Homo sapiens: one gene and its partners. The gene in region 1 interacts genetically with each later gene. Each region holds a gene or a part of one and is shown in the gene's direction. Other genes may lie near its edges. The genes, in order: GBF1, XPOT, SLC35E1, DNAJC3, MANF, KDELR2 and UBA6.

Evidence for each region.
Region 2: changes in GBF1 (region 1) and XPOT together harm fitness more than expected from each alone (negative genetic interaction), as found in Homo sapiens cells (one study listed by BioGRID).
Region 3: changes in GBF1 (region 1) and SLC35E1 together harm fitness more than expected from each alone (negative genetic interaction), as found in Homo sapiens cells (one study listed by BioGRID).
Region 4: changes in GBF1 (region 1) and DNAJC3 together harm fitness more than expected from each alone (negative genetic interaction), as found in Homo sapiens cells (one study listed by BioGRID).
Region 5: changes in GBF1 (region 1) and MANF together harm fitness more than expected from each alone (negative genetic interaction), as found in Homo sapiens cells (one study listed by BioGRID).
Region 6: changes in GBF1 (region 1) and KDELR2 together harm fitness less than expected from each alone (positive genetic interaction), as found in Homo sapiens cells (one study listed by BioGRID).
Region 7: changes in GBF1 (region 1) and UBA6 together harm fitness more than expected from each alone (negative genetic interaction), as found in Homo sapiens cells (one study listed by BioGRID).

What each region holds. Positions count from the first base shown.
Region 1 is NC_000010.11:102,378,032-102,381,531, forward strand, and holds part of GBF1 (Golgi-specific brefeldin A-resistance guanine nucleotide exchange factor 1), read left to right. Parts: intron 1-1,252; coding exon 1,253-1,403; intron 1,404-1,489; coding exon 1,490-1,620; coding exon of another isoform or gene 1,621-1,662; exon of another isoform or gene 1,663-1,698; intron 1,699-1,821; coding exon 1,822-1,923; intron 1,924-2,217; coding exon 2,218-2,331; intron 2,332-2,474; coding exon 2,475-2,655; intron 2,656-3,095; coding exon 3,096-3,224; intron 3,225-3,500. UniProt on the Homo sapiens protein: Guanine-nucleotide exchange factor (GEF) for members of the Arf family of small GTPases involved in trafficking in the early secretory pathway; its GEF activity initiates the coating of nascent vesicles via the localized generation of activated ARFs through replacement of GDP with GTP.
Region 2 is NC_000012.12:64,407,392-64,410,891, forward strand, and holds part of XPOT (exportin-T), read left to right. Parts: intron 1-2,570; 5' UTR 2,571-2,644; coding exon 2,645-2,704; intron 2,705-3,500. UniProt on the Homo sapiens protein: Mediates the nuclear export of aminoacylated tRNAs. In the nucleus binds to tRNA and to the GTPase Ran in its active GTP-bound form. Docking of this trimeric complex to the nuclear pore complex (NPC) is mediated through binding to nucleoporins.
Region 3 is NC_000019.10:16,549,337-16,552,376, reverse strand, and holds the end of SLC35E1 (solute carrier family 35 member E1), read left to right. Parts: 3' UTR 1-2,540; downstream 2,541-3,040. UniProt on the Homo sapiens protein: Putative transporter.
Region 4 is NC_000013.11:95,683,639-95,687,138, forward strand, and holds part of DNAJC3 (dnaJ homolog subfamily C member 3 precursor), read left to right. Parts: intron 1-3,500. UniProt on the Homo sapiens protein: Involved in the unfolded protein response (UPR) during endoplasmic reticulum (ER) stress.
Region 5 is NC_000003.12:51,384,084-51,388,090, forward strand, and holds the start of MANF (mesencephalic astrocyte-derived neurotrophic factor precursor), read left to right. Parts: upstream 1-1,207; 5' UTR 1,208-1,259; coding exon 1,260-1,353; intron 1,354-2,124; coding exon 2,125-2,252; intron 2,253-3,653; coding exon 3,654-3,795; intron 3,796-4,007. UniProt on the Homo sapiens protein: Selectively promotes the survival of dopaminergic neurons of the ventral mid-brain. Modulates GABAergic transmission to the dopaminergic neurons of the substantia nigra.
Region 6 is NC_000007.14:6,474,153-6,477,652, reverse strand, and holds part of KDELR2 (ER lumen protein-retaining receptor 2), read left to right. Parts: intron 1-3,368; coding exon 3,369-3,469; intron 3,470-3,500. UniProt on the Homo sapiens protein: Membrane receptor that binds the K-D-E-L sequence motif in the C-terminal part of endoplasmic reticulum resident proteins and maintains their localization in that compartment by participating to their vesicle-mediated recycling back from the Golgi.
Region 7 is NC_000004.12:67,621,156-67,624,655, reverse strand, and holds part of UBA6 (ubiquitin-like modifier-activating enzyme 6), read left to right. Parts: intron 1-402; coding exon 403-530; intron 531-1,433; coding exon 1,434-1,521; intron 1,522-1,730; coding exon 1,731-1,825; intron 1,826-3,500. UniProt on the Homo sapiens protein: Activates ubiquitin by first adenylating its C-terminal glycine residue with ATP, and thereafter linking this residue to the side chain of a cysteine residue in E1, yielding a ubiquitin-E1 thioester and free AMP.

The sequences.
Region 1 (3,500 bases):
ACACGGTGAAACCCCGTCTCTACTAAAAATAGAAAAAATAGCTGTGCATGGTGGCAGGCGCCTGTAGTCCCAGCTACTCGGGAGGCTGAGACAGGAGAATGGCGTGAACCCGGGAGGCAGAGCTTGCAGTGAGCCGAGATTATGCCACTGCACTCCAGCCTGGGCGACAGAGCAAGACTCCATCTCAAAAAAAAAAAAAAGAAAGAAAAGAAAAATAACGAAAGTAAAAATGTATTAAATCTGGCCAGACACTATTGCCCAATCAAAGCCTCTGAGCCTGAGGTTTTCTGTTTTAAAAATGAGATTAACAGCCAGGTACAGTGGCTCACACCTGTAATTCCAGCACTTTGGGAGGCTGAGGCGGGAGGATCACTTGAGGCCAGGAGTTCGAGACCAGCCTGGGAAAAATAGCGAGACCCTGCCTCTACAAAAATAAAAATGCAAAAATTATCTGGGCATGGTGGCACACATTGTAGTCCCAGCTACTGGGGAGGCTGAGTAGCTGAGTAGGTGGGAGGATTTCTTGAGCCTAGGAGATCCAGGAGGCAGTGAGCCATGATGGTGCCATGCACTCCAGTTTTGCACAGAGCAAGACCCTGTCTCAAAAAATAAAATAAGAAATAAAATTAGGCCGGGCATGGTATAATCACACCTGTAATCCTAAAACTTTGGGAGGACTATTGCTTGGGCCCAGGAGCTCAAGATCAGCCTGGGCAACATGGCAAAACCCCATCTCTACAAAAATACAAAAAATTAGCTGGCTGTGGCAGCGCACAGCTGTAGTTCCATCTACTCATAAGGCTGAGGTGGGAGGATCACCTGAGCCCAGGAGTTCGAGGCTGCAGCGAGCCGTGATTGTGCCACTGCACTCCAGCCTGGGTGACAGAGTGAGACCCTGCCTCAAAAAATAAAATTAAATTAACAACATGAGGCTTTCTCTGTCATCAGCAGGTGTGAAATAGAATTGAAAAGAAAGTATCTTTCTCACTGTGAGTAAGGATTGTGAAATACTCAGTCCACACACCTCCTAAGGCTCTCTCTCTCATGAGTAATCTCTGACTTGGAGAGTCCTTTACAAGGACTGGAACAACCAGGAAGTCAAGTCAAGGGAAAGAGTAGCGAGGGGGTGAGGTATGGCATGATTGGTGCTAGGGACACCTTGAGGACTTAGTTAGGGACAGTGAGTGGGGAGGGGGAAAGGGATCCACGAGACCTAACCCCACTCACATCCTGCCCCCTCCTGTGATCCTAGTTGCTAGACCTGATGCACACCCTGCACACGCGGGCAGCCTCTATCTACAGCTCATGGGCGGAGGAGCAACGCCACCTGGAGACAGGTGGCCAGAAGATTGAAGCTGATTCTCGCACCCTCTGGGCCCACTGCTGGTGCCCTTTACTGCAGGGTAAACCAGGAGGGGCAGAGGTAGGGAGTTTGGGGAGCATCAGGATCAAGATGCCTGAAGGATCCTGACCCTGCTCTTGCTCTCAGGTATTGCCTGCCTGTGCTGCGATGCCCGGCGCCAGGTACGGATGCAGGCACTGACCTATCTGCAGCGAGCACTACTTGTACATGATCTGCAAAAGCTAGATGCCCTGGAATGGGAGTCCTGTTTTAACAAGGTGGGACTTCCTACTGGTCTTAAGATAAAGTTCAAATCCTAAGAAAAGGAAAGCCAGGCAGCCTGAAGAGCCCCTAATGTGAGTCTTCAGCCTGCATCATACCTTCCCTTCAGCTCTATGCCCATCCAGTTCCTGGCTTCCTTGGGGCAAGGCTGCCTAGCTGAACCTCATAGGGAGACATTGCACATTTACCCCCACCAGGTGCTGTTTCCTCTACTTACCAAGCTCTTGGAGAACATCAGCCCTGCAGATGTGGGTGGGATGGAGGAGACCCGGATGAGGGCTTCCACATTGCTCTCTAAGGTACTGCTCACCACCCTATACCCACCCTCTCTCCCATACCTGCCTTTTCCCGAGGAGGGAAGCCAGGGCTTCTGGCAGGACCTAGAGATGCACTGTAGGTGCTCACAACCCCCCAGCTATGGACACTAAGCAGGACCTAGGGACCTGAGAGGATTCTGAATCTTAAATCAGAGATTCCTCCATCTCTGATCTAAGATTCTCATGCAAGATAGGACAGGCTTAGCTACCCAGCCTCAGAGAGGGGTCCAGAGGCTCCTACAGTCCCCTCAGCTGAAGGGGGCTGGTGGGCCATAGGTCTTCCTGCAGCACCTGTCTCCACTGCTGTCACTCTCTACCTTTGCGGCCCTCTGGCTCACCATCTTGGACTTCATGGACAAGTACATGCACGCAGGCTCCAGCGACTTACTGGTATGTTCTACCTCAGCTCTGCTGCCTGCCTCCTGTCCCACCTGTTGGAAGGACTTGCCCTTTCCCCCTTGGTAGCTACCTCCCTTTACCATACTCCCCCCATGCCCTCTTTCCTATTCTCATGGTCCCACTGCCACCTGCAGTCAGAGGCGATCCCTGAGTCTCTGAAGAACATGCTTCTGGTGATGGACACAGCGGAGATTTTCCACAGTGCAGATGCACGGGGAGGCGGCCCCTCGGCCCTCTGGGAGATCACCTGGGAACGCATTGACTGTTTTCTCCCTCACCTACGAGATGAACTCTTCAAGCAGACCGTCATCCAGGGTAGGGGGCTCAGCCCAGCTTTATCAAAAAGAGTCTCCTGCCTGGGCACAATGGCTCACACCTCTAATCCCAGCACTTTGAGAGGCCGAGGTGGGTGGATCACCCGAGGGCAGGAATTTGAGACCAGCCTGACCAACATAGTGAAACCCCATGTCTACGAAAAATACAAAAATTAGCCAGGTGTGGCGGTGGGTGCCTGTAGTCCCAGCTACTCAGGAGGCTGAAACAGGAGAATCACTTGAACCCGGGAAGTGGAGGTTGCAGTGAGCCGAGATCACAGCCTGAGTGACAGAACGAGATTCCATCTCAAAAAAAAAAAGTCCCCAAAGCTGAATTTATTGTCTGTGCCCTGGGTGGGTAGAAAGGCTGTTGGGTAGCTAGGGCTCTGCTGGAGAGAGAAAGCACTAAGAGGTGCCATCTCAATTCTCTACCGTCTCCAGACCCCATGCCCATGGAGCCTCAAGGCCAAAAGCCTCTCGCCTCAGCCCACCTGACTTCCGCTGCTGGCGACACTAGGACACCTGGCCATCCACCGCCCCCAGAGATTCCATCTGAGCTGGGGGCCTGTGGTGAGTCTCTCTAGCCTAGCCTGATAGGCACTGAGTAGCAAGCAGGGGGCCTAAGAGGAGGCCCAAGGGGGCGTGGGAATGCTGCTGAGCAGGGTCTGTGAGCCGAGGGAAGAAGGCCACTAGAGAGAACTGTTGCCGCTCTTCCCATGGGAAATGACAGGACCATAAGCTATGAGGAACTAGCTGCTTGCAGTCTTCAGGCTTGGGAAGAGAAGGCTGGGTCAGGGACTTGGAATGAATTTGCAGAGGTTTCCTTTCAGGGATTCTAGTAGAGAG
Region 2 (3,500 bases), on another chromosome or scaffold:
AGAAGAATCACTTGAACCCAGGAGCCAGAGGCTGCAGTGAGCCGAGATCATGTCACTGCACTCCACCCTGGGCAACAGAGTGAGACTGTCTCAAAAAAAAAAAAAAAAGATTAATGAGAGAAAACTAGTAAGCTGGCAGTGACAGCATAGCAGTGCTTAGGATGGGGCATGTAATCCAATTTGGGAGAGTTGGACAATAGAGGTCAAAGAAGTGTTCTTGAAAGAGATGGCTTCTAAGTTGAATTTCAAAGGACAGCAGGGGTTAACCTACTAACAAGAAGAAAGAGCAGTGTGCAAAGATGAAAGGTAGAATACCACTGGAGAACTGCCATATGGTTCACTAGCACTGGCCTTGCTGACCTGGTGTGCAGAATAGTGAGGAGTTATTCAAAAGTGTTTGGATCGTAATCTGAGGGCAGTAGGGAGTTACACTGCCTTGAAGTCTGCAAGTACGTTATGAACCATAAGAGAAAGGGCTGAGCTGTCTTCAAAGCTCTCAGTCCATATCCTGAGTTATTTGATTCAGGCAGGCTCAGAGGAAAACAGAAAAGCCTATTGTAGGTATCCTGTAACCTGGACCTGAGCCTGGTTTTGCTATTCCCAAAAGGCCTTTCTCCCCTACCCCTGCTATTCCCAAAAGGCTTTTCTCCCCTACCCCCAATCCAATTAGTTTTTTGGCGTCTTTGGTTAACGGTAATTGAAACAAAAAGCCCCACAGCCTTTTTTTGTTTTTTTTGAGACAGAGTCTCGTTCTGTCACCCAGGCTGGAGTGCAGTGGCGTGATCCCAGCTCACTGCAACCTCCACCTCCTGGGTTCAAGCGATTCTCCTGCCTCAGCCTCCCAAGTAGCTGGGATTACAGGTGTGTGCCACCATGCTCCACTAATTTTTTTGTATTTTTAGTAGGGGATTTTACCATGTTGGCCAGGCTGGTCTTGAACTCCTGACCTCAAGTGATCCACCTGCCTCGGCCTCCCAAAGTGCTGGGATTACAGGCATGAGCCAGCACGCCTGGCCCCCCACAGCGTTTAATGGAAGTAGTAAGACTTGGTCTCCCTACCTTATAGGTCTTGAGAGAATAATATCATTTTTCACATCATTTAGAGTTTGTTCCATGTTTGCTCAAATGAATATGCATTCTATCAAAAACTAGGATGCCTTTTGCAGCTTATTATTTGAGAATGTTGGAACCTATATTGTGAAGAAGTGGATTACCTCTCAGAGATTAAAAAAAATCCTTAAATAAGAGTAGTCAGTGTTAAGTCATTTGTGGATTTTTTTTTGTGTGTTTTGTTTTTTTTGAGATGGAATCTCACTCTGTTCTCCAGGCTGGAGTGCAGTGGCGCAATCTTGGCTCACTACAACCTCTGCCTCCTGGGTTCAAGCGATTCTTGTGCCTCAGTCACCCGAGTAGCTGGGATTACTGGCATGTGCCACCAAGCCTGGCTGATTTTTGTCTTTTTAGTAGAAACAGGGTTTCACCGTATTGGTCAGGCTGGCTTGAACTCCTGACCTTAAGTGATCTGCGCACCTCAGCCTCCCAAAGTTCTCAGATTACCGGTGTGAGCCACTGTAGCTGGCTGGTTTGTGGGTTTTTGTATCTACTATTGAAAAACTTTTTTTTTTTTGAAATTTTTAGAATTGGCTGGCAAGAGCAGAGATCTGTAAAATGCAAAACTAAGTCCATTGCTCAAAAGCTAAATGACTGGTTTTTCATTATCCTGTTCCTTTCATTAGACTTCTGTCATAGTACTTAGTAAACACTCCAAAGGATATTGAACTCTGAGGTCAGCCATTCTAATGTTTTAAAGAAGGTTTGTGATATTTGTATCTGGAAGTAGACAAATTATTATAATTACTGTAATAGTCTGCATTTGTCATTTTTATACTTAACTGCAGTTGCACAATTGCATTTTTAAGTACTAGAGATAAGTAAAACACTGCATAAATTAGGTACTTCTACTATTTAAAGTAGAAAATGATTACTTTCTATACCTTATTAAGAAGATCTTGAAGACTAAGAAAGCTTGAGGACCTTTATGGCATACTTTAAGATTTTTAGGGGCCAGGTGGGGTGGCTCATGCCTGTAATCCCAGCACTTTGGGAGGCCAAGGCGGGCGGATCACGAGGTCAGGAGATCAAGACCATCCTGGCTAACACGGTGAAACCCTGACTCTACTAAAAATACAAAAAATTAGCCCAGCGCGGTGGCGGGCGCCTGTAGTCCCAGCTACTCGGGAGGGTGAGGCAGGAGAATGGCGTGAACCTGGGACACGGAGCTTGCAGTGAGCTGATACGGTGCCACTGCACTCCAGCCTGGGCAACAGAGTGAGACTCCGTCTCAAAAAAAAAAATCAGATTTTTAGGAATTACACATTAGTGGAGTAGTTAGCAGAGCCCATTTTTCTGAGAATTAGGCTCTAACTTTTAGTTGTAATTTAGATAAGTTCCAAAATAAGTTTTTAAACATTTAAGCTTCTTTGCATGATTTTATCCATTTACGTTATTCAGGATAAGCATCTATTTGTTTATCAAGTAATGTTTTCTTTCAACTTTGTTTTTTGTGGCAGATGTTTATAAATTCTTCTGTGGGATCAGAGGGCACGCCTATTACAACCAGAAAACTACAAGTATAACAGCGAGGATGGATGAACAGGCTCTATTAGGGCTAAATCCAAATGCTGATTCAGACTTTAGACAAAGGGTAAGTTACTCTGCTGAATCATTTTTTAATCATGTCACCACAGATTGGCATTAGAGGACTTGAATAAAAATGCACCTGGCAAAAGTTTACTTTGGGTAGAAATGAACAGAAACAAAAAAATTTGAGGTATTTGAATATATTTTGAATATAGAAACAGTGAGTGTTGTGATTTATTTTCTGTTTACTTGGCCAAACAAAAGTATTAAAATCTCATATGATTCAAGGCAGATCTTTATGCAACATCAGTCATTATTTCTAATTATTTAAAAATTGTAATGCAAAGGATTCGTTTAAGAGACTTTCCATAGCAGCAGACATGTGTATTTTATTTTCTCTTTCCTTGGCTTGATCTATACAAGCTGTTTTAACACTTACCTTAATGATTTTTTTTTTATTTTAATTTTTTTCTAGAGATAGGGTTTCACCATCTTGCCCAGGCTGGTCTCGAACTCCTGAGCTCAAGCGATCTGCCCACCTCAGTCTCCTAAAATGCTAGGATTATAGGCATGAGTCACCCTGCCCGGCCACATTAGTGATATTTAACTTTCTTGTTATTTGGTCTAGGCAGACATAAATAAGCAGTTATGATAGGTTATGTCTTAAGTAAAATGGTTACATGACAAGAATCCATTATAAAGTGCTGGGATAGTTGGATAAATGTAAACAATTAAATATAATGTAGCCTACAACTATAATCATGACTATAGCTGAATGATAGAAAAATATAAAGAATGAGCCTATAATTAATTTTTTTTAAAGACGTGGGCATTTGGAACTATAGGGTAAGTGGAAAGGA
Region 3 (3,040 bases), on another chromosome or scaffold:
AGAGCGAGACTCCATCTCAAAAAAAAAAACAAAACAAAACCAAGTTCCCACTGGTGATGCCTGTCTGACACGTTTTGGTATTTAGTAGGAAATGAAGTGTTTCGAAGCTTCGAGAGAAGCTTCAAAATTGTCACAATTGCTGAAAACAGAATGAATCGTGAACATTATCTCAATATTTTGTATAATAGACAAGACCACAGTGTTTTGGTTCCCTGACCTGTTTTTGTGTTTATGTTAGGATCTGAATCATGTTCTGGGTAAGGGGACGAGGAGCGAACACTGCACTAAGATTTGGTTTGCCAAATCAGATTCTTTGGTCAAGAGTCAGTTTGGGGCCAGGCGTGGTGGCTCATGCCTGTAATCTCAGCACTTTGGGAGGCTGAGGTGGGTGGATCACTGGAGTTTGAGACCACCCTGGCCAACATGGTGAAACCCCATCTCTACTAAAACAAAAATTAGCCAGGCATGGTGGCACCTGCCTGTAATCCCAGCTACTTGGGAGGCTGAGGCAGGAGAATCACTTGAGCCCAGGAGGTGGAGGTTTCAGCGAGCTGAGATCACACCACTGCACTCCAGCCTTGGTGACAGAGTGAGACTCTGTCTCAAAAAAAAAAAAAAAAAAAAGGAATCAGTTTGGGTCTTGGCAGAAATCAACATAAGGAATATGACAAGACCCCAGTAGGTAACCCTGAGTGCTCAGGTCCGAGCTGTGGTCTCTTTTACGGCTTCATGAAAGGACCGTGCCCTCACGGAGGGGACCACGGCTTGGCTTGTGGGGTCTTAGGTGATGGCTGCCTTCTTTCTTCATCACCACACCCAGCTTCTTGCTGGCACTTAGGGGAAGAGAGCAGCAAATGAGAGATTTACCTTTTATCTCCCAGCGAGCGAGATGTTTCCCTGTTCAGAGAGGAAGTAACATCACTTATGCTTGACTGGTGTTTCTTTTGTTGTTGTTTGTTTTTCTTTCAATTGGAATTCTGTATTTAAGATGTTATGTCAGCTGACACATGGGACACTCCTGAAGAGGTGACTGGCCCCCCACCCTGTTTGGCGGTGAGTTTCCGCACCACCGGCCTCAGAAGTGTCCCTCTTGCTTCGTCTCTTGTTCGCTTGCTTTGTAAATACTTTGGTCCCAAGCTGAGACAATTGCTGTGTAAAACGTGAAGAGTCAATCCCAAAGGGTGTTATTTGTCAGAAGAACTTGCCGTGTGCCTTCACCGAAGGCAGTCAAGTCTGCAGTTGGATTTTTCTCACTGGTGAATGACAAGAAACAGGGATAATTTTGCACTGCGGAGATATTACGGGAGTTGTCTATATGATTATATATAGTACCTGATTCTTTGAACATATTATTGAACTCCAAAATGAATTCGACCTCCATTCAGGCTTCCTGAAATCTCTGAAGTTGCTGAAATTTGTATATTATTTTCCTTTTCCAATGCAAGATCTGCTGGTGACGGGAAATGACTGTCTGGTTTTATTATGGTTTATAAATTAATAAATGGGCTATTTAATTCTGTATATAAATTTACAGCAAGTACGTACACTGGAATGAATGAGGCAATCACGTTACACCAAATCAGCAGATCAAAAGACAAACACATATTTCTGAGACTTGAAGGTCCACATCCCCCCGCCCCCTGCCAAGATGGAGTCTTGCTTTGTTGCTCAGGCTGGAGTGCAGTGGCGCAGTCTCAGCTCACTACAACCTCCATCCCCCGGGTTCAGGTGATTCTCGTGCCTCAGCCTCCCGAGTAGCTGGGATTACAGGCATGCACCACCACGGCTGGCTAATTTTTTGTGTTTTTAGTAGAGACAGGGTTTCACCATGTTGGCCAGGCTGGTCTCGAACTCCTGGCCTCAAATGATCCGCCCACCTTGGCCTCCCAAAGTGCTAGGATGACAGGCATGAGCCACCGTGCCCAGCCTGATTGACAATGGCCTCTTGAAGGCTGGGTTTTCCCAGCCGGACAGTGCCCGCCCCACATGCTCCACTCCCACGCTTTCATCTGCAGGCCTGCCTTCCTCTCAGCCACCTCACTGCTGAGCTCTGTGGTAGAGAATTTCCTTTACCCATCAGGGTATGGTCTGGCTGGTAATACTGACTCCAACCCAGCTCCTTCATTTTATAGAAGGAGGCATTTCTGAATCATGTTTGTTCACCATGGCGAGACTCACTGCAGAATTTTTAACCACCTTATTTTAAGTCATTCATTCTAGGAACAGTCAAGCCCCTACCACAAAGGGGCCAGATCCGTTCAAGTGAGGAAGCACTTGCAGTTTCTGAATTTTGCTGTATATTTGTCCTATGTCACCCAACAGGCCCTTTGCTATAGCTGGGACATTACCAGACCCCAATACCTTAGGGTCTCACAGCCTGAAGGACACAGAGCATTGAATTATTAAAAGACCTGAAAATATTATAATGTTTTTCAATTGTCACCTGTTTTCAAGACTTAAATGCTATAGACTTTTCTGCAGGAATGACGTGTATATTCCTCACTGGCATTTACCAAAAATAAATGATGGTTTCCAGGGAATCAAAATTGGTCCCGATTTGTCAGCGAGGGTCTCTTTTTGAGTGGCCCTGTCTTCAGTGTGCCCAGCAACAAAATGTGGAAGGAGGAGAAAGAGCAAGCCAACTTGGCTGTCACGTCTGGATTTACTGCAACCTTTGTTTTTTCTTCTGAGCCAAAAATAAGGACGTGCAATTTGTGAATTGATTAGATGATACAATGAAAATAGGATCACAGCTAAATTAATGACGTGACTTTATTGAACGGAATAACATGGGAAGTCCAGGAACATTGTGGCAGCTGTGCTTATGAAACTTTTTTTTTTTTTTTTGGTATGTTTCATGTTTTTTGAGACAGGATCTCATTCTGTCGCCCAGGCTGGAGTACAGTGGCGCAATCCCGGCTCTCAGCAGCCACAACCTCCCAGACTCAAGGGATCCTTCCGCCTCAGCCTCCCAAGTAGCTGGGATACAGGCATGTGCCACCAAACCTGGCTAATTTTTGTATTTTTTGTAAAGATGGAG
Region 4 (3,500 bases), on another chromosome or scaffold:
AGTTCCGGCTGGGCACTGTGGCTCACGCCTGTAATCCCAGCACTTTGGGAGGCCGAGGTGGATGGATCACGAGGTCAGGAGTTCAAGATCAGCCTGGGCAAGATGGTGAAACCCCGTCTCTACTAAAAATACAAAAAAAAAAAAACTTAGCCTGTTGTGGAGGTGGGCGCCTGAAATCCCAGCTACTTGGGAGGCTGAGGCAGAGAATTGCTTAAACCTGGGAGGCAGAGGATGAAGTGAGCCGAGATTGCACCACTGCACTCCAGCCTGGGTGACAGAGCAAAACTCCATCTCAAAAAAAAAAAAAAAAAAATTACCCAGTTCCGGGTATTTCTTTATAGCAATGTGAGAATGGACTAATACAGAAAATTGGTACTGGGAGTGGGGCATTGCTATAAAGATACCTGAAATTGTAGAAGGAAGCAACTTTGGAATGGGGTAATGGGCAGAGGTTGGGACAGTTTGGAGGACTCAGAGGAAGACAGGAAGAGGAACGAAAGTTTGAAACCTCCTAGAGACTTGTTGAATGGTTGTGACCAAAATGCTGATAGTGGTATAGACAGTGAAGTTCAGGCTGAGGAGGGCTCAGAATGACCGCAGATGAGGAACTTATTGGGAACTGGAGTAAAGGCCACTCTTGCTATGCTTTAGTAAAGAGACTGGTGGCATTGTACCCCTGGTCTATGGATCTGTGGAACTTTGAACTTGAGAGAGGTGATTTAGGGTATCTGGTGGAAGAAACTTCTAAGCAGCAAAGTGTTCAAGATGTGACCTGGCCTCTAGCAGCCAGTGCTCATATTCATGAACAAAGAAATGATGTAAAATTGGAACTTACATTTAAAAGGGAAACAGAGCAGAAGAGTTGGAAAATTTTCAGTCTGACCATGTGGTAGAAAAGAAAAACCCATTTATAGGGGAGTAATTCAAGCAGACTGCATGAATTTGCATAAGTAAAGAGGAGCCAAGTGCTGATAGCCAAGACAATGGGAAAAAGGGCTCCAAGGCATCTCAGCGACCTTTAAGGCAGCTCCTTCTATCATAGGCCCAGAGACCTAGGAGGGAAGAACAGTTTCCTGGGCCAGGGCCCTGCCAGCCTCAGGACACTGCTGCCTGCATCCTAGTTACTCCAGCTCCAGCCATGGCTGAAAGGGGCCCAGATATAGCTCAGGCCTTCAGACGGTGCCAGCCCAAACCCTTGGAAGATTCCACATGCTGTTAAGCCTGCAGGTGCTGAAAGCCAAGAATTGAGGCTTGGGAGCCTCAGCCTAGATTTCAGATATATGGAAAAGCCTGGATGTTCAGGCAGAAGGTTGCTGCAGGGGCAGAGCCCTCATGGAAAAATCTCTACTAGGGCAGTGCAGAGGGGAAATGTGGGGTTGGAGCCCCCAACAGAGTCCCCACTGGGGCACTGCCTAGTGGAGCTGTGAGAAAGACCACCATCTTTCAGACCCCAGAATGGTAGATCCGCTGACAGCTTGCACCATGCACCTGGAAAAGCTGCAGCCACTCATTGCCAGCCCTTGACAGCAGCCGCGTGGGCTGAGCCCTGCAAAGTCACAGGAGTGGCACTGCCCAAGGCCTTGGGAGCTCACCCCTTGCTGCAATATGCCCTGGATGTGAGACATGGAGTCAAAGGAGATTATTTTGGAGCTTTAAGATTTAATAACTGCCCTGCTGGGTTTTAGCACGTGCATGGGGCCCGTAGCCTTTTTCTTTTGGCCGGTTTTACCCTTTTGGAATGGGACTATTTACCCAATGCCTATAATCCCATTGTATCTTGGAAGTAATTAACTTGTTTTTGATTTTATAGGCTTATAGGTGGAAGGGACTTGGCTTGTCCCAGATGAGACTTTGGACTTTTGAGTTAATGCTGGAATGAGTTAAGACTTTGGGGGCTGTTGAGAAGGGATGATTGTATTTTGTAATGTGAGAACATGATATTTTGGAGGAGCTGGGGCGGAATGATATGGTTTGGATCTGTGCCCCACCCAAATCTTATGTTGAATTGTAATCCCTAATGTTGGAGTTGGGGCTTGGTGGTAGGTTTTTTGTTTTTTTTTAGAAATCTCCATATTGTTTTCCATAGTGGTTGAACTAATTTACATTGCTGCCACCCATATATGTGTTACAATTTCTTCACCTCCATGCTAACATCTATTTTTTTTTAAGCTTTTTAGTAATAGCCACTCAGACTTGTGTAAGATGATTGATATTTCATTGTGGTTTTAATTTGCATTTCTCTGATGATTAGTGATGAACATTTTTTCATGTTTGTTGGCTGCTTGTATGTCTTCTTTTGAGAAATGTCTCTTAATGTCCTTTGCCCACTTTTTTTTTTTTTGAGACAGAGTCTTGCTCTGTCGCCCAGGCTGGAATGCAGTGGCACGATCTTGGCTCACTGCAAGCTCCGCCTCCCAGGTTCACGCCATTCTCCTGCCTCAGCCTCCTAAGCAGCTGGGACTACAGGTGCCTGCCACCATGCCCGGCTAATTTTTTGTATTTTTAGTAGAGACAGGGTTTCACTGTGCTAGCCAGAATGGTCTTGATCTCCCGACCTTGTGAGCCACCCGCCTTGGCCTCCCAAAGTGCTGGGATTACAGGCGTGAGCCAGTGCGCCTGGCCCTTTGCCCACTTTTTAATGGGGTTCTTTGTTTTCTTCTTGTTGAGTTGTTTGAGTGTCTTGTAGATTCTGGATATTAGTCCTTTGTCGGAGGCATAATTTGCAAATGTTTTCTCTCATTCTGTAGTTTGTCTCTTTGCCCTGTTGATTATCTTTTGATGTGCAGAAGCTTTTTAGTTAAGTCCCATTTGTTTATTTTTGGTTTTGTTGCATTTGTGTTTGGGGTCTTCGTCATAAGTTGTTTGCCTAGGCCAATGTCCAAAATGTTTAATCTATCTTGAGGTAGTTTTTGTATATGCTGGGAGACAGAGATCCAGTTTCTTCTGCATATGGCTAGCCAATTTTCCCAGCACCATTTATTGAATTAGGGTGTCCTTTCCCTGTTGTTTATATTTGTCAGCTTTGTCAAAGATCAATCTGTTGGATGTAAGTATGTGGTTTTATTTCTGGGGTTCTCTATTGTAGTCCATTGATCTGTGTGCGTATTTTTGTACCAGTACCATGCCATTTTAGTTACTATAGCCTTGTAGTATAATTTGAAGTCAAGTAATGTGATGCCTCTGGATTTGTTCTTTTTGGTTAGGATTACTTTGGCTATTCATGCCCTTTTTTGGTGCTGTATGGACTTTAGAATTGTTTTTCCTAGTTCTCTGAAAAATGACATTGGTGATTTGATAGGAATTGTGTTGAATCTACAGATTACTATGGGCAGTATGGTTATTTTAATGATAGTCTCCAAATCCATGAGCCTGGGATGTTTTTGTGTTTATTTATGACATATATGATTTGTTTCATAAGTGTTTTGTAGTTCTCATGGAGATCTTTCACCTCCTTGGTCAGTGTTTTCCTAGGTATTTTATTTTTTTGCATATGGCTTTTG
Region 5 (4,007 bases), on another chromosome or scaffold:
ATCCAACAAGTAATGTGAATTTTAGATGTAAATATCTGCCACTTGATTTTTTTTCCCCCTTTCCCCACTTCCTTGACTGCTGTGATGTGAATTAAAGATAAATACGTGATACTGATCCACTGAATTCACTGAATGGGAGCAGAGGATGTGCCCCTCTCCAACCCTTGTCGCCGGGCTCCAAGCCCTTTTTAGCCCTATAGACATGTCCTTTTTGCACTGAGTAGAGCCAACGGTTCCCGCATCCTGCCTTGAAGGCAGGCAGCCAGGAGGGCACTTGAAAGGAGGGCAGTCGAAAAGGAAACATCCTCCAGTGCTTCTCTGGTGATTCCCGGGACCCCACTCAGGAGGTCCCACGGCAGCGGGGGACCCCGAGGGCCTAGCCGGGGAGGCAGGAGGAGGCTGGCCAGCCACCAAGCCACGATTCAGAGCTTGTAAGGGCACCTCCCGAGCCCCTCACCTTCCCACTCTGAGGCGACCCCATGTCCTCGACCGATGATCTGGCCCGGGCGCTTCCCTCCACGGTCTAGAGTGGCGGCCCAGCTTTGAGCTTGGCGCGCCTTGAGCCCTTCCTTCAGATGTCCCGCAGTCCGTCCACCCCGCACGTCTCCTATCAGCCTATGCACGGCGGGCTCCGGTCAGGTGGAGGATCAGCAGGTGGGCTTTCAAAGGTTGGATCCGTTGCCCACGCGAATGAAAGAAGAAAAAAGAAACCTCTTTGAGCCTTGCCTGCGGCCGCCCGCCCTTCCTGCCTAACCTGTTGTCTTGGCTGACCCCAGAACTCCTGCACCACGAGTCGGAGTCCGGGCGAGGAGATCAGCAGGGGTTTTCGAGGGAGCCTGGGGCCCAGGGCAGGGGTACGCGGGTCAACTCAACAGATGTAAGGCGTGGCCGAACCCCATTCAGCTAGCAGTACCCAGCCTCAGCCACAGTCGCTGCCCTTACCCAAGATGGCGGCCCACACCGCTTCCGTCGCTGCTGTAGTCGCTTCCTGCGGCCAGCCCGGGTTCAATCAGCGGCCGACAACTGTCTAGGGCTCAGACACCACCAGCCAATGAGGGAGGGCAGCGTGGAGCCGCCCGTCTGGGCTCGCGGCTCCTGGACCAATGGGGAAGTGGCATGTGGGAGGGCGCCGGGGGGCCCCCCGCCAATGGGGAGCTACGGCGCGCGGCCGGGACTTGGAGGCGGTGCGGCGCGGCGGGTGCGGTTCAGTCGGTCGGCGGCGGCAGCGGAGGAGGAGGAGGAGGAGGAGGATGAGGAGGATGAGGAGGATGTGGGCCACGCAGGGGCTGGCGGTGGCGCTGGCTCTGAGCGTGCTGCCGGGCAGCCGGGCGCTGCGGCCGGGCGACTGCGAAGGTGCGGGATAGGGGGCCGGGGGCCGCGCTCCGTGACCGTTCTGGCGGCGGCGCTGAACCCCACAACATCACCAGACGGCCGGGGCCAAGAGGGCGAGGGCGGGGGCGGGGGCGGGGGCGACAGCAGGTCCCCGCGGGGCCTGCATGAGGAGGCTCCGGCGCCCGCCCTAGTAAATCTTTCTTGGGCCTAGAAAACATTGGTCCGACGAAGAAAAGTTGAGACTAGATCCCGTTGAAAACTTGTCCTGAAATCTCCATCACTCCTGAGTTATTGTCCCCACCACCATCTAGAGGTTACCGCTCCCCGTTCGGCGTCGGGAGCTCCAGGGCTGGCCGTGGGTGCTGCGCCCTGTCTGTTGGGATCACGAAGCTGCACCTCTGGGTCCGCTGTTGTATTTGGAAATTAGCAGCAGCATTTTGATCATTTTTCTCTTCACCTTCCAGTCTCTCCATTTATGAGGTCACAGTGAGTCCCGTCTCAAGGACACGTGTTCACCATGGGCTTAAACTTGATGAAAGGAGCAGGGAGAAGTCGTTTATAGGTCATTGGGTGATGCTTGGTCCTTTGATGCCCTGGGTGTACCAGGGGACCCCCGCCACTTGGAACCGGGTTCTGTCTACCTGTAGACACCTGAGAAAAATCGGTGATGGAAAAGCTCACCTCTAATGATTCATCTCCGTGTCTCCTATTAAAATTGCTGGCGGAGTTCTTTTCTGGTGGATTGGAACAGCTTGGTGATTGCTGAGCATCTCCCGTCCCTCTCTTTTCCAGTTTGTATTTCTTATCTGGGAAGATTTTACCAGGACCTCAAAGACAGAGATGTCACATTCTCACCAGCCACTATTGAAAACGAACTTATAAAGTTCTGCCGGGAAGCAAGAGGCAAAGAGAATCGGTTGGTAAGTAGCTGGTGATCCTCCCCAACTGGCCCTGGCTCATGTTAACCCTCGGCTTCACCAGCCGTTTGATAAAAGGCCTTGCCCACCTCTCTGTTCAGGAAGCCAGCTACTCTCTCCATAAACTAATGTGAGAAGACTGAAGTGCTTCTATGTCCTTCCCAAAGCAGCATGTGTTCTGCAACTGTGATTTTTTTTTATCCTGTTAGTCTTTATTAAGCACCTACTATGTGCTAGGCACTGGGAATATCAGGGGAAAGAAGTGACAGTCGGACACACAAATAATGCAATGTCTGGGTGTCATGAAGAAAATGGACCAGCAGGTGCTGATTTAGAGTGGCCAAGAAGTCTCTGAGGAAGGGTTATCATTGAAGTGGGGTAAGACCATCCCATACAGGGAACAGCAGTGTGAGTGCCCAGAGGCCTGAAAGAGTGTGGCATGTATGTGGACAGGAGAAGGTGACAGGGTGCCTACAGGATAGGCAAGGGCCGAATCCAAGACAAAAGCCCTAGTGAAGCAATGGGTTTTCTAACTTGAATTTCTCTGACAGTCTCTGGCTTTTCTCTCTGTTAAAGGTTTGAACCCTGGTGACACTTAAATTCATTTGGTGGCTGTCAGCTTGGACTGAGCATGTGTTAAGAGTCCAGGGTTTACACTGGCTGAATCTGACTACCAGTACAGGCAGGGCACCGAAAAATGCCGCTGTGGGCCAGGTGCGGTGGCTCATGCCTGTCTTCCTAGCACTTTGGGAGGCCAAGGTGGGAGGATTGCTTGAACTTAGGAGTTTGAGATCAGCCTGGGCAAAGTGGTGAAATCCTGTCTGCACAAAAAAATTTTTAGGCTAGGCGTGGTGGCTCACACCTGTAATCTCAGCACTTTGGGAGACCGAGGTGGGTGGATCACCTGAGGTCAGGAGTTCAAGACCAGCCTGGCCAACATGGCAAAACTCTATCTCTACTAAAAAATACAAAAATTAGCCAGGCATGGTGACAGGCGCCTGTAATCCCAGCTGCTCAGGAGGCTGAGGCAGGGAGAATTGCTTGAACCTGGGAGGCGGAGGTTGCAGTGAGCCGAGCCAAGATTGCGCCACTGCACTCCAGCCTGGGTGACAGAGCAAAACTTTATCTCAAAAAAAAAAAAAAATTGTTTTAGTTAGCTGGGTGTGGTGGCCCACACCGGTAGACCCAGCTACTAGGGTGGCTGAGAGGGGAGGATCACCACCCAACAGATTGAAGCTGCAGGGAGCCGTGATCATGCCACTGCATTCCAGCCTGGGTGACAGGGAGCCCTATCTCAAAACACAAGTAAGGCCCTACAGAGAGATGATGTTTCAAGGTGTCAGTATGTTTGGAGGAGATGGCTCTCAAGCACCTCCTGAAGGCCATTGTCCTTTATTGCTCCAGTGCTACTATATCGGGGCCACAGATGATGCAGCCACCAAAATCATCAATGAGGTATCAAAGCCTCTGGCCCACCACATCCCTGTGGAGAAGATCTGTGAGAAGCTTAAGAAGAAGGACAGCCAGATATGTGAGCTTAAGTATGGTGAGTATGCCTAGTCCTTTCTTAATGAATGCTGTGCACCTTCTGGGTTTGTTTCCCATCTGGGAGAGGAAAATGATGAGCTAGAGTCATGAGTGGGTTGTATTGTATGACAGATGGTGCTAAATGCTGGAGGGCTCTGGCATGGAAGTGGGTGGAGGTCAGAATAGGCCTTATTGAAGAAGTGATATTTCAGCAAACTTTGAAGGAGGTGA
Region 6 (3,500 bases), on another chromosome or scaffold:
TTTAACCTGGCCCAGTAGGATAAGACAAGAATGATGTTGTTTAATGACTGATTTCCATTTAACAAGTTGTACTCCTTAATATAGATGTTTGGTGTATTTGGTAAGGGGATATCAGTTTCAGAAACATTTACAAAAGTGAGTATTCTGGGAGATCTTATTACCTGGTAACCTTAGCATGCTTTGATCTCAAAGTGGAGAGAAGCCGACTAGGAGCTGCTCTGGTTTAATAGCAGGTATTCTACTCCCAACCCCTCCAGGAGATTCTTGCCCCACCCCCTTCTGTCTTCAGCTAGGATTCCCATTTTCCTATGAAGACAGGACAGTTTTGTTGTTTTAAAGGAAGAAGCTGCTACTTCCTAATCAGGATCTCAGGCTGGGGAAGAACAGTGTGGGACCACGTTAGCATCCGCAGATTTCCAGCAAGGCTGTCCTGCGTGGACGCTACTCCATGGACCGGCTTCAAACCACACACTGCCCTGTGCGCACCTGGGGCTCTCTCACCCTCTAGCTAGTAGTTAATTAGGGCAGAGCCCTATTTACAGTCACAGAGACACAGTATGACCTGGACATTCTTCAGAAGTGTTCTCCCAAAATACCACAAAATGAGAATTTGACCCCATGACATGAAGATAAAATGAATCCCATTTTCTTTTGTCCATTTATTCATTCAGCAAATATTTTCTGAGTCCTGCTGTGTGTCAGGGCCCAGTGTCCCATGCAGGGAATACAAGATGGAATAAGGCATGACCCCAGCCTTTAAAGATCTTGGTACTGAGTGAGGTTTTTGGGGAGAGGAGAGGCAGGAACCACATCATCACAGTGTATTTTTATAAGTACTGTAATTGGAGCTAGGGCAGCAGCTGGCATGAAGCAGTTCCCCTTATGTGCTTGCTGAATGAATCAACAGTCCTGAGGGAGGGTATCTTCAGAGATGACATCCCAGAGGAGGTGGGATATGAGCTGGGTCCCCACGGGGGCTGGTAAAGACAATATGATGGTCCCTGGTTTTCAGTATAGGAATGCTGGGAATGAGGACACAATTTCAAATCTGCCTGGCTTCCAAAGTTCTGTTAGAGTAAAACCCTTTCCCACAAAATTCACCTACTTGTATCCTGTATGTTTATATTTAAAATATTGGAAAGAACCATATAGGAAATAAGCTGGAAATTGATTTCTCAAGGCTTCAACAAACACCAGGTATGGTCTGACTGCTCCCTGTTCTTTCTTCTTCCCCCTCTGAAACCTCCCGGTTTCTTGGTTAGCAGCAGCCTTGTCATTTCCCCTTTGGAACATTGGTCTCTGTAGGAAGAAATCAGTTATCCGTTACGGGGAAAAGACTAAGAGCAGATTCACTGTCCGTGTCTCCTCCTTTGGCCCTTTGGTTTCTATTGATGGATCTGGAAGGGTGGCATCAACATTTTTTTCCATTTCTATTTAGATGTGTATGTGAATAGGCTGAGACTACAGTTATTCATCTGAGAAAGTAACATTCTTACATTCAGGTTTTCAGTTTCAGCAAGCTGCAAAATGATTGTTCATAAAATATTGAAAAACAACATGTAATACAAATATTAGCCAGGTGTGGTGGTGCACCCACCTGTAGTCCCAGCTACTCAGGAGGCTGAGGTGGGAGGATCACCTCAGCCCAGGGAGGTCAAAGGTGCAGTGGGCTGTACTTGTGCCACCGCACTCCAGCCTGGGCAACAGAGTGAGACCCAGTCTCAAAAAAAGAAAAGAAAAATAATGTGCTTTTCACGTTCCAGAGGAGTGTTGTGAATGATTTGGGTGAAGTGACTTTTCTGTTAAATTCATACTTACTAAAATGTGTAGTGGTGTGAAGTATGCATTATAGATGAGGGTGGGTGGGTTCTGACATTTAGTCAGCCTTCAGTTTCTTTAATGCATTTGCTCAGTCTCCAGCATCTGAAACCCATAGTTTGCGTCCTTTGTCACATAAATATTTGGCCAAATATAGATGTCAGAAAAGCTGTGTGCACACCACATAAATGTCCAGCCTTCCTGGCTGAGTGTGGCTGTGCCATGCAGTGCTCTGGAGGTGGGTTGGTGGTTGGAAGTGGAAACACAGTTTCAAGGCTTTAAAAAAGACAGCTGCTTTTGAAGACCAGCTGTAGTTGTGGGTTCATACCTTCATGTTGTCCTAGCATTCAGGAACATTTTTATACAAATACAATGGAATTTCTATTTTATTGTAATTAATTTATTTTTTGAGACAGGGTCTTGCTCTGTCACCCAGGCTAGAGTGCAGGGATGTGACCACAGCTCACTCAGCCTCAGCCTCCTGGAGTCACGCAATCCTCCCACCTCAACCTCCCATGTAGCTGGGACCACAGGTGTGTGCCACCTTGCCTGGCTATCACTTTTCTATTTTTCGTAGAGATGGAGTCTGGTCTCAAACTCCTGGGCTCAAGCGATTCTCCCGCCTTAGCCCCCCTATATGTGGAGATTATAGGCATGACCACTATGCCTAACTGAGAGGGAAGCTTTAAAAATCTTAACATATCCAAGTAATTGCCGCTCTTAGCAAAGAAGTCACCATGGGATGCGATGCCATTATTCCAGCGGGAGTTCCTGCCCAACTCTTACCTGAGTCGGTGCTTCTCATCTACTCCTCATCCCCCTTAATGACAGTAGACTCCATCTCCGTTCTCAAAAGATTTCTCACCATGGAGATACTGTTTTACCATACAAAGAAGGGACCAGGCGACATGGCTCATACCTGTAATGCCAACGCTTTGGGAAGCTGGGCCCAGGAGTTCAAGACCAGTGTGGGCAACATGGTGAACAAAAAATTTGTTTAAAAATTAGCTGGGTGTGGTAGTTCACACCTCTAGTCCCACCTACTCTGGAGGCCGAGGTGGGAAGATTGCTGAAGCCCAGGAGGTCAAGGCTACAGTGAGCTTGATCGTGCCTCTGCACTCCAGCCTGGGCAGCAGAGGGAGACCCTGTCTCAGGGGAAAACAAAAAAGAAAAATCTGAATGTAAGAGACAAGTTATAACACTAAATGACAGCAGAATTATTGAGAAATTTGTTCCTACTTAAGGTGATATATTTGAGAAGTAAAAGGTTCGTTTGAATGATACACATCCTGGCATAATAAAGCCCCTTTCCTGTGGTCGCCCTTTATAGTGAGACAGAAAAGCCTGTTAGAGCCTCCCAAAAGGAGCATGTTTGGGAATGGGAAGGGATAGAAAAACTACAACTGCTCTTGTTCATTCAGAGCCATCCCTAGACCTGGGCCTTGACCCCACGCACCCCTCCTTCCCTGTCTGCACTCCCTGCACAGTGTGATCCACAGGAATCCCAAAGCTCTTCAGGCCCTTCTAATACTTCCCTTCTGTTTCTCTAGGTATTTCTGGGAAAAGCCAGCTTCTGTTTGCACTGGTCTTCACAACTCGTTACCTGGATCTTTTTACTTCATTTATTTCATTGTATAACACATCTATGAAGGTATGGTATGCCATCCACAGGAATGTATTTC
Region 7 (3,500 bases), on another chromosome or scaffold:
TCAGAATCTTTAAGTGCGGCCCTAGTTATTATACCATATTACATCATTACTCTATGTAATTATCTATGAAGCTATGTAGTTATTTACCCCTGTATTAAGTGATTTTAGACTGTTGTTATTTTTTGAGTTACAGCATGTGCTTTCAAAATAGGGAGACTGTATGGTTGAATTAATATTTTTTTAAATAACTGTTAACATGTATAGAGTAGGTTGAAAGTTTGAAAGTATAAAATATACTAAAAGTATACAGACCTGTAATAAGAAATTTATATTACTATAGTCCCATAGCTGCTTTTACTATCCACAGAGAAATGCTTGAAAACGTGAAAGTTGAATAGATGCAATTAAAATCACGGATAGTTTTAGGCTGTTTATATTATCAGATCACCTTCTTTTATCTAGGTTGCCTTGGAGATGATCAAAGTAACTGGTGGCTATCCATTTGAAGCTTACAAAAATTGTTTTCTTAACTTAGCCATTCCAATTGTAGTATTTACAGAGACAACTGAAGTAAGGAAAACTAAAATCAGGTATGTATGAAAGTCTATTTCTCTTGTATAATGAGAATGAAATAAAATATTTTACCTTTTAAAAGGGAAAAATACTAGCTTCACCTCTTTTTTCTTCTATTGTGTATGTGTAAATTTTTGCCATCACTTCAAGATCAGCTCAAACCTCATCTTCATTAAATATTTCTGACTAAAGTAGCCAAAGAACCCTTACAGCACTTTATCTGCCACATTATTTGGCATTATGGTTTCATCTGTGTCTGCCAGATGAATTAGAAGGTACCCTGGTGTCTGACTGTAGGTCATGAGATTTAGAAGAATTCCACAAGCTTGAGACAAAGCAGAACAATTCCTGGGCCTGTACTTTTTAGTTTTCAGATTGGCAACAACCAAAAACTTGAAAAAAAACCTACCTTAACAAGGGTGTGAGAAAGCAGACACTCTCATACATTACTAATGAGAGTACAAAATACTATAATCCACAGTAAGGGATATATAGCACTATATTTCAGATACATTTGCACAAGTCTCAAACTATATATTTGCAAGATAATTATTCTGGCATTATTTATCGTGGCCAATGATTAGAATAACCGAAGTGTCCAGTAATGGGGTACTGGAACATCCACACAGTGAAACCCATTTTAAAAAGAGAGAGACAACACTGTCTTGCTAAAACATACTGATTTATAATACACTGGAAGGATCAGCAAGGTACTGATTAAAAGTGGTTATCTATATGATGTGATGAAGAAATAAGATTATGGAATATTTTAGAAGATATATTATCCTTTATTTCCCCACATTAATTTCTAGCCTGATCACAAATAATGGACTTCTGAAAGTGGGTTTTTTTTGTGTGTGTGTCATCACTAAAAGGAAGAAAATTTCAATGTTTCTGTTCTGAATATTTTTCTGTAACAGAAATGGAATATCATTTACAATTTGGGATCGATGGACCGTACATGGAAAAGAAGATTTCACCCTCTTGGATTTCATAAATGCAGTCAAAGTGAGATACTTTTGTTCATTTAGTTCATTAGTAGCTTTATGTCTGGTTTCTGTTTTGTTTTTATTTATAATTTTATTGGAAGTTATAATTATTTACCATGAATTTGCTTTTTTTACTGGTCATAAAACATTGTTTACGAACAATGTTAAATAAGCATTTTATGTTTGAGCGAGGCTTTCATTGTTTCTTTTTTGGATATTCACTTTTAGGAGAAGTATGGAATTGAGCCAACAATGGTGGTACAGGGAGTCAAAATGCTTTATGTTCCTGTAATGCCTGGTCATGCAAAAAGATTGAAGTTAACGTAAGTATTCAACATTATATGCAGCGATTAACAAGAATTTAAATGTAAGTTGATGCACACTAAAAAATTAAATATAGAGGTTACTATAATTCAGATAAAAGCATTAGTCTTGTCTAATGACATTAATAAAGACAGTGAATCTGCCAGGTGAAGGCCAACAGGCTACCTCTCGAGAGATTCAGCTCTTCAGTTAATAGGTTTAGAAACCTGATTTGGCCAGTACACTTAAGTAAAAGTGGATCCGTCTCTTATGTTGAGACACTTAATGACCAGGCTTATGAGTAATCTAACTGCCAAATCACTATTTTTGTTCATTTATTCAACAAATTATTGTTTAAGGTGCCAGCTGTGTGCCAGGTACTATTCTAGTCATTAGGGAGATAGCAGTTAGCAAACCAAAGTTCTTTCCTACTTAAGGAGTTTGCATAACAATAAGGCAAGTATGTTAGGTGATAGTAAGTATTATGGAGAAATTAAAGAAGAATAAAGAGAAAAGGAAATATGGGGAGTTGGGGGTGTTGAGTTGCTATATTATACTGAGTAGTCTAGGTTTTCCCTTTGCCTATCATAGTCTCACCTGTTAAGGTGGAATTTGAGCAGAGACTGAAAGGAAGAAAGAACCAAAGAAAGCTAAAGTCTTTATCGTGGTCTGCAAGACTCTAAATTTAGATTCCTAGTTATCCTTCTAAGTTCCTTCCTTACTTTCCCTTCACAATATTCCAGCTACACTGGCCTCCTTATTTGTCCTTGAATACTCACTCTAATCATGCTCCAGCATGGGACCTTTGCTTTAGTTGTTCCCTCTGCTTGTAACTCTGAGACAGTGACCTGGCCAAGTCTCACCCCTGGTCTTTGCACTTCCTAAAGAGGCCTCATTTAATACTGCAACCTGTCCTCAGCCCCAGTCTAGTATGTCTAGTCCCCTTTACTCTTCTCTACTTTTTCTTTTTTTCAGAGCACTTATTACTGTCCTATGACTGCTGTGCTGCTGTGTATTTTGCTTATATTTATTGTTTGTTTGTTTTTGAGACGGAGTCTCACTGTGTCGCCTAGGCTGGATTGCAGTGGCGCGATCTCAGCTCACTGCAACCTCTGCCTCCTGAGTTCAAGCGATTCTCCTGCCTCAGCCTCCCGAGTATAGCTGGGATGACAGGCACCCAACACCACACCTGGCTAATTTTTGTATTTTTAGTAGAGACGGATTTCACCATGTTGGCCAGGCTGGTCTTGAACTCCTGACCTAAGGTGATTTCTCCCGCCTCAGCCTCCCAAAGTGCTGGGATTACAGGCGTGAGCCACTGTGCCCGGCCCATGTACTGTATATTAGCTATTTACCTGCTACTAGAACATATATTTCACAAGAGTGGGAATCTTTATTTGATCTTGTCACTGTTGTATCTCAAGCACTTAGATCAATACCTGGCAAATAAAAGGTTACCAACAAATATTTGTCAGACTAGTAAATGAATCTCTGCATGATGGTTGTGTTTAACGTATCTATTGGCTTTAACTATGATAATCAGTTGAGGTTAATCATTCTTAAATTATGATCTAGTCTGAATTATCTGTACCTTAAAAAGTAAAACTACTATTTTATTAGCTAAGGCATTAATTTGCCTTATATTATTTTTCATTAGGATCCCTCAGTATCTTTTGGATCAAGCAAGGCTAGTGT